2 separate regions of the Homo sapiens genome follow, and region 1 is reported to be linked to region 2. Evidence: microRNA targets listed by miRTarBase, many of them from high-throughput screens and not tested one by one. Region 2 holds a microRNA gene; the other region holds the end of a gene's coding sequence.

Region 1 (4,325 bases), not on the chromosome of region 2:
CCTCTACCAACTAAAAGGTAAAGTTCTACTCTACTAAGTCATACCACGCCTCACCTTAATGGCACCAGCATCTCAGAGTAAAACAGGATAGTTTAGATAGAGTCCACTGATTCTTAGACCTTGCTGGCTGCTCCGGGAAGGGCCCTTTGCAATGGATTTCTGTTGTTGTATGGATAGAGTCCAGTAAGGGATGTGGGGACGCTTCAGGTCTGAAGAGTTCATTTTCTTAATGGCACTGGAAAGGTTAATTCTGATGACTTCTCTCCGCTGCTATATCTCCATCTATAGTTCAAGGATAATGGCCCACTGCCTTTCTTTCATGGGACACAGTTTTTTTCTGTTGTTGTTTGTTGCTTGTTTCTTTAAACAAAGAGAACAAAATCTGGCTGGGTGCAGTGGCTCACGCCTCTAATCCCAGTACTTTGGGAGGCCAAGGTAGGCGGATCACTTGAGGTCAGGAGTTGGAGACGAGCCGGGCCAATACGGTGAAACCCCGTCTCTACTAAAAATACCAAAATTAGCCGGGTGTGGTGGTATGCACCTGTAGTCCCAGCTACTTGGGAGGTTGAGGCAGGAGAATTGCTGGAACCTGGGAGGCAGGGGTTGCAGTGAGCAGAGATCATGCCACTGCACTCCGGCCTGGGTGACATAAAACAAACAAACAACAACAACAAAAACAAAACAAAGCAAACAAACAAAAAAAATGAGGACAAAACCAAAGATTCCTGAGTTTTATGTGTGCTTCTGTCCCTTTAGGCTGATTGCTGTTATTTGATAGTGCATAATTTTTATTAAAATCAAGATATTTAGACAATTTAGAAGCAGCTTTATATTTCAGGTTCGGAAGGAGAAAGACAAATGGGCTTCTTTGATGGCATTTCTACCACTGCAGCAGGAAAATGAGTTCAAGTCATTAAAAAAAAGATACATTCAGGAGAAAACACGTGTCTTTAGTCAGTAACTAGCACCCATGGGTTATACTAGAGGACAAGCAAGCATCCTTCAAGGAAAAACAAACTCTGAGTTGGCATCAGAGACCATCTCAAGATCTCATTTTTATCATCTACAAAATAAAAATGCCTGACAGCACCTTTTCTAATGTCCATTACAGCTCTAAAATGCTACTGTCAGTTTAACATTTACAATCTACCATGCGTGAGGCACTATGATAACCGATAACAGAAAAAGATGAAAAAAAGCCAAAAAATACAAAATAGGTAAAGGGGTGAGATAAAAAACACAACAGATAAATGGATAAAATTTAAAATGAACAAACTGTCCTCCCTGTCCTTCAGCCCACTGACCACCAGAACAGACCTATGTGTGCATGCATAGACATAATTCACAGATAAGGTACATAGCATACCCGAAGGGGTGTGGGGGCACCAAGGGAGAAGGTAAAGGCTGGTCTAGGGAGCAGGATGCCCTTGGTCATGGCCTTTAATGACATATAAGATTAAATCAGCTGAGGATGGTACAGATGCCAGTGATGGCAAAAGGGTATTTGGTTAGTTGCATATCGTAGGTTAGTTATTTGGCCCAATAAATGTTTGTTAACCTACTGGTGGCCAGAAGAAGAAAGGGAAGTTGGAAGAGAAGACAAAAAGCGAGGAAAGATAAAGTGATCTAGTAAAATTGAAGAGCTGGAATTTGAGATTCAAGGTCAAATTTGGGGAGATGGGGATGGAAAATGAAATCGAAAAATAGTTTTAATGATCACCATTCTAACTGGTGTGAGATGGTATCTCATTGTGGTTTTGATTTGCATTTCTCTGATGGCCAGTGATGATGAGCATTTTTTCATGTGTTTTTTGGCTGCATAAATGTCTTCTTTTGAGAAGTGTCTGTTCATGTCCTTCGTCCACTTGTTGATGGGGTTGTTTGTTTTTTTCTTGTAAATTTGTTTGAGTTCATTGTAGATTCTGGATATTAGCCCTTTGTCAGATGAGTAGGTTGCGAAAATTTTCTCCCATTTTGTAGGCTGCCTGTTCACTCTGATGGTAGTGTCTTTTGCTGTGCAGAAGCTCTTTAGTTTAATTAGATCCCATTTGTCAATTTTGTCTTTTATTGCCATTGCTTTTGATATTTTAGACATGAAGTCCTTGCCCATGCCTAAGTCCTGAATGGTAATGCCTAGGTTTTCTTCTAGGGTTTTTATGGTTTTAGGCAATCATTAAAAAGTCAGGAAACAACAGGTGCTGGAGAGGATGTGGAGAAACAGGAACACTTTTACACTGTTGGTGGGACTGTAAACTAGTTCAACCATTGTGGAAGTCAGTGTGGCGGTTCCTCAGGGATCTAGAACTAGAAATACCATTTGACCCAGCCATCCCATTACTAGGTATATACCCAAAGGACTATAAATCATGCTGCTATAAAGACACATGCACACGTATGTTTATTGCGGCATTATTCACAATAGCAAAGACTTGGAACCAACCCAAATGTCCAACAATGATAGACTGGATTAAGAAAATGTGGCACATATACACCATGGAATACCATGCAGCCATAAAAAATGATGAGTTCATGTCCTTTGTAGGGACATGGATGAAATTGGAAATCATCATTCTCAGTAAACTATCCCAAGAACAAAAAACCAAACACCGCATATTCTCACTCATAGGTGGGAATTGAACAATGAGATCACATGGACACAGGAAGGGGAACATCACACTCTGGGGACTGTTGTGGGGTGGGGGGAGGGGGGAGGGATAGCATTGGGAGATACACCTAATGCTAGATGACGAGTTAGCGGGTGCAGCACACCAGCATGGCACATGTATACATATGTAACTAACCTGCACAATGTGCACATGTACCCTAAAACTTAAAGTATAATAATAATAATAATAATAATAAAAGAAAAATAGTTTTATACCCTAGGGTAAAATGTCACACCCTACAAATGCACCCCTTATAAATACTTGTTGTTAACATCATTGCTATTAAACTCTGTTTATGGCTGTTTTGTTTCTAATATTCATTTTTAAAATAAATATTTCAATTATGAAATAGACCGTAAACCCATTGTTCACAGATTAATCCTATAGTATGCATCACATCTATCATTGCTACTGATTAAATAAAGCAAATTCATAACAAATTTTATCTCTGATAGAACATAATTATTGCATATTGAATATGAAATCAAAATCAAATTAGTTTCAGTTTGGAGGGAGGACAATCCGACTGTGAACTCACCATGCAACCTTGGACTACATGTCCTTGTCTGTAAACACAAGGGGCTGAGTCAGGTGACTTCAAAGTCTCTTCTAGTTCTATTTGATTATAAGTTGCATATGCATATCGGCAATGTGAATTACTGATTAATCACGCTTGTATTTCAATATATGGCTTGGATCCAATGCTTTTGATAGAAAGTTCTTAGGAATTCTTAGTGACTAATTCCTGGGGTGATCAACTTCTCTCACTCACAGGGAATTCATCTAAAGGTACCCCACAATAAGTACATGGCAGAGCCTGCAAGTTTGCTCCCAGTCCTTGGAAAAAATCTTCCTGCTGCTTATAGATCCATGTTTAATAGCTTCAACACAGCAAACTCAATAGCTCTCTTCTGAATTCCAGAAATCCTCCTTTCACAGTTATAGGAAGACAGACTCTTGAGAAACACCAAAACAATCTTGTGGACAATAACACTATTTTTTTTGGAGCAAAGGACTATGGGACCTGTGATGGTCCCTGCCGTGTCCATGGTCAGCTGTCCACCTCGACCGAACCTCAACCAAAGAGGCCTTGCCCTCACTCTCCCCTCCAGACTCACCCTCCTCATCCACTGCATGAAACAGAGGTTTGGGTCTTAAGGCCACCCTCCTTACTCCACCCAAGTACTCTTCTTGGCTTGTGTTTCTTTGATAACCAAAGCTGAATGCCTTCCTTCCTCTGTGTAGGCTCTTCATTGGTATTATTTCTTGTGCCTCTTGCTTCTGAAGTGACCCTATCCGAGAGCATGCGCTGAACGTGATGGATGGGGATCCTGGATCACTGCTGTCATCATCTAGGAAAACATCATGGCAAGAAGGGGAAAGAACAAGACTTAAGATCAGAGTTAAGACTTAATATCCACATGGCAGGAACTCAGAGTGAAGCAAAGCTCTTCCTGAGGTTTCAGCTCTACACTCAACTTTCTTATCAGCACAATTTTTCCTTCTCAAGGACACTGCCCCAAGCAGATGGGAGGACAGAAGCTATAAGTGCAGTGTCATAAATAAATAGAAATGCATGCAAAATGCTGTATCAAGCCAGTCTCCCCAGGTAAGTAAGGTAGTGTCTTTTTACAGAATCAGATCAGTTGGCCATAGACA
Region 2 (4,401 bases):
TTCAGATAGTGATAAGTGACGTGAAAATATGATACGAAAATAATGGATTCAGCATTTCTGGTGGCTTGATAAATTTATTAAAAAAAAAAAGAAGATGGAGGAGGAGGAGAAGAGGAAGGAGAAGGAAAAAAGGATGGAGAATTGGGTGCTCTACTTAAATGGCCACTACTAAACTGAGTGGTCAGGAAAGGCCTCTCTGAGGACCATGATCTTTGAATTGAATGAGACTCAAAGTGTGAGAAGCCAGGCTTGTAAAGTTCTGGGGAGAGCCTTTCACGAAAGTGCAAATGTCCCGAGGACCAAATGAGTTTGACTCAATCTGAAGCCCAAAGGCCTGTGTCGCTAGGAATAAGTACGGGAGGAAAGGAGATGTTGGAGATGTAGGCAAAGGCCAGATAATGTGGAGGCCTTGCAGACCAAGGGAAGAATTCGTATTTCATTTGAAGTACAATGAGTTGTCTGTAAGGACTTTCAGAATCGCTCCCTCCCGCGTCTCCCGAAATTCCATTTAGGCTCACTTTTCAAAATCATTTCCTTTTTCTCTTTCTTGGTCACCAACTGCTACAGTCACATATGTTAATTTTGTGTGAACTTGTCAAGGAATGTAATTATATTTTAGCAACTGAAGTTGATTGAGTTACAGGATGTTCACAACAATATAAAGTAGGTTCGACAGTATAAAGTCGGTTACATTCATTTTCAAATGAGAAAACTGAGGCCAAGAGGCTGAAATCATATCCAAGGTCAAACAGCCAGGAGCAGCTGGAATGCAGGCCTAAGCAGTCTGACTCGAAACCTTGCTGCTAAACGCTAACCCAGAAAACGTCAGCTTCTAACTCATCTCTCCATTGGAGTCTCAAAACCCATGGAAGAGAGAAGGGGTTTCTGCTGCCATCAGCTGCTACATCTTCTCCGTGGCCCCAAACCTCCCTTTCTTCTTCCAGTAACAAACAAAAGCTCCCATTCAAATGAATAGAGACAAGTAGATACTGCCCTGCAGGGGCCACCTACAACCAGCCAGAACTACCCTTCTGTCTCTGATTACATGCACTCTGAATGTCCTCCCAAGGCCAAGATGCCACCAATTCTGTCCAACAAGGAAGGCCACTGTATTTTCACCAGGGCTACAAGGATTCATTGCCCCATTATTCTTCAAGTCACTATCATCCCAAATTAGACACTACTGATGTCTAAAAGTTCCTTTGAAATTCATCCAAAATTAAGATGAGTTGATGACTAGAGAGATGGATAAAAGATTTGTGATAGGCCAGGCGCAGTGGCTCACGCCTGTAATTCCAGCACTTCGGGAGGCCGAGGCAGGTGGATCACCTGAAGTCAGGGGTTCGAAACCAGACTGACCAACATGGTGAAACCCCGTCTCTACTAAAAATACAAAAATTAGCCGGGCGTGGTGGCGTGTGCCTGTAATCCCAGCTACTCGGGAGGCTGAGGCAGGAGAATCGCTCAAACCCGGGAGGTGGAGGTGGCAGTGAGCTGAGATCGCGCTACGGCACTCCGGTCTGGGCAACAGAGTGAGACTCCGTCTCAAAAAAAAAAAAAAGCAGGCCGGTCGCGGTAGCTCACGCCTGTAATCCCAACACTCTGGGAGGCCGAGGGGGACGGATCACGAGGTCAGGAAATCAAGACCATCCTGGCTAACACGGTGAAACTCCATCTCTACTAAAAATACAAAAAATTAGCCGGGCGTGGTGGCGGGCGCCTGTAGTCCCAGCTACTCGGGAGGCTGAGGCAGGAGAATGGCGTGAACCTGGGAGGCGGAGCTTGCAGTGAGCCGAGATCACACCATTGCACTCCAGCCTGGGCGACAGACCGAGACTCCGTCTCAAAAAAAAAAATCATTGTTAAAAAAACAACAACAACAAGGATCTCTAATAAAGCAACTGCAGTAACATATTAATGGTAATATTTAGGTGAAGTATACGGGTGTCCACTGTACAATTATTTCAGCATTTCTGTATGTTTGAACATTTTCAAAATAAAGTATTGGGAGGAAGTTACAAAGAAACAAGGATACTTTGAGACAAGAGAGAAGATGAACAGACTTCGTCAACCCTCTTGGTTTGTTTAGGGCACACTTATGCAATTCTCTAGGGGTCTCTGCTTCTCTTTGCATTTTTAGAAGAAGACACAAATTTAGCCTGTGATTCATAAACTCCAACATGGCGAAGAATCATCTGTGAGATTAATTAAAAAGGAAGATTCTTGGAGATCTAGCCCCAAAGATTCTGAATGTAGATGGGGCTTGGGAATATACTTTCGTAACAAGCTCTTCATGTGAATCTGGGAAGAAATCCATCCACATAGAGAAACACTGTTTTATAATGTGATAAAAGTGAAAGCCATTGTGTAGTAGACAGTAGACGTGCCATATTTTCTTTGCTCTGATTGATTTGGGGGTGCCTGGGATTTAGAGACTAATATTTCACCCAGGTAAAGAAATGGGCATCCCTTACATTTTCTTCATAAATTGAAAGACCAAATAAAAATGTTAGTGCTTCATGAGCAAATACTTGTATAGGAAACTCTTTTGATGGGCATATTCACACAGAAAACTGTCACCCTCATTAATGAATAAAACAACTTGCAATAGTCAAATGGTGGGACTCACTATGTTGAAATGAGAAATCTTACGTATGGTGAAAAAAATACGACAAAAAGAAGAAAGGAAGATACACTAAATTTAGGTTTTAAAGAATATTCACTGTTCTCCTTTAAAATTAGATATTTAATTTTTTAAAAAAAGAAAGAAAAACATTCACAAGAAGAGAGAGCGATTGGGGAACATAATTTGATGGGACTTCAGCCATTCAAAAAATAATGTGGTAGTGTTGGAGGCTGTTGCAAGACCTTGGTTCTTGTCTTCTTAGTTTAAAAGAATTTAAACAAGAGACATACAGCAAAAGAGATGCAGCATAATTTATTGCAAAAGAAAAAAAAATTTTGAAAGCTAAGTACAAAATAGACATCACACCCTGAGAGAGAGAGAGAATTCAGGGCAGGCTGCTCGTAAGGATGAGACAACATTGATTATTGCTGGAGGTTATTGCTAATCATGTATTATTTGCATGATTATTCATAAGGAGGTGGGAAGAAGTGTTACCGTTAGGTTCGTGCAAGAGTAATCGCGGTTTTGGCCATTACTTTAAATGCAAAAACCACAATTACTTTTGCACCAACCTAGTAGTAAGCATCTTCTGGTTGGTCCTCTGGCTGCACATGTGCAGTAGCTGTGCACCCATGTTCCTCCCTCAGGTGTCCCATTAGCATTGTAAATCTCCACCCAAGGGCATGTTTTTTGCTATTATAATGAGCAAAAGGTCAGTTTGAGGACAGGTAAAATCAAAGTGCTCATGCTCTCTATAGAAGAAATTTCCTACTGAAGATAGCTTTGCTCGACTGAGTTCAATCACAATTCAAATGCTGAGGCTTATTGTGTTGACTGTTGGGGTCACCATGGTTGCTGCGTCCTGAGGATATGGGCACTTCCTTGACTGCCTATCCTGCCTCAGTACTACTTTTTCAGTTCAGAGTTTAATTTTTTTCAGCAGTTCCTGCTAAACAATTTTTCACTGGCCCTCTTATCGGTATTAGCACAGTTAGGCAATACTGTGGATACAAAGTTAGATTATAGACGCTATCCTACAATGATACCACAGTAATGTCCACAAAGAACTATGTTACAAAATAGAAAGAGATATGTGTTATAGAAGAGATACAAATTAAATATGTTGCTAATTCGGAGCAGAGAGAAATAACTTTCAGTTTAAAGGATCACTACAGTGGAGCTTCAAGATGGGGTTAAACTATACTTCGGTTTGGACATGCAGATACAGGGCAGAAAGTATTCAGGCAGTAGGGTGGTATGAAGGAAGGCAAAGAAAGTGTGCATAGGCACAGTGAATGAAGGGAGCAGGAAAGGACAGAGTAGTTAAGGAATATAAGCTCGAGATCAAATTTTGGAAGGCTTTGAAAATCAAGCTAAGGAACTGGGCCTTTCCATTATTGTTGGGTAATGAAGAACCCCCAACGAGTTTTAGGAAGGGGAGTGAAATGATCGGAGCTTTTCCTTGGGGATATTTTTCTAGTAGCCTTGAGCGCAGTGGTTACAGAGATCCAAGTAAGGGCTATTGTAAAAGTTCAGGAGAGAGGGAATAGAAGCTTAAACTCTGACGTTAATCATGGGGATGGCACCAAGAGAACCTTGGAGGTAAAACCAGTGAGATTTGAGGACTGATTTGTTTAGAGAGTAAGAAAGGAACTGGAGCAGGTGCCAATATTTCAAGTCTGGGTAACAAGGAGATTGAGGGAGAATAATAACAGAGAGGTAATATAGGAGGCAGTAACTCTTATTGATGTCAAAGTACAAATTTCAAAAAATTA

Evidence for each region. The annotated mature microRNA hsa-miR-548ae-5p reads AAAAGUAAUUGUGGUUUUUG and lies in region 2 at 3,171-3,190, opposite strand. An mRNA with a match to its seed (bases 2 to 7 or 8) in the 3' UTR can be bound and repressed. Matches are read on the target gene's strand: a 7mer-m8 pairs with bases 2 to 8, a 7mer-A1 pairs with bases 2 to 7 and ends in A, and an 8mer does both.
Region 1: the mRNA of SLC9A4 is a reported target of hsa-miR-548ae-5p. Seed matches in the 3' UTR shown: 7mer-A1 at 2,832-2,838.

The regions. Positions count from the first base shown.
Region 1 is chr2:102,532,023-102,536,347 of GRCh38, reverse strand. It overlaps SLC9A4 (solute carrier family 9 member A4), which reads right to left. Exons shown (of 12, transcript NM_001011552.4): 12 at 2,376-4,018. The coding sequence ends at 3,660. Among named protein-coding and RNA genes, the nearest start is that of SLC9A4, 61 kb to the right of the region's middle.
Region 2 is chr3:32,503,173-32,507,573 of GRCh38, forward strand. It overlaps MIR548AY (microRNA 548ay), which reads right to left and starts at 3,217; the gene lies at 3,111-3,217.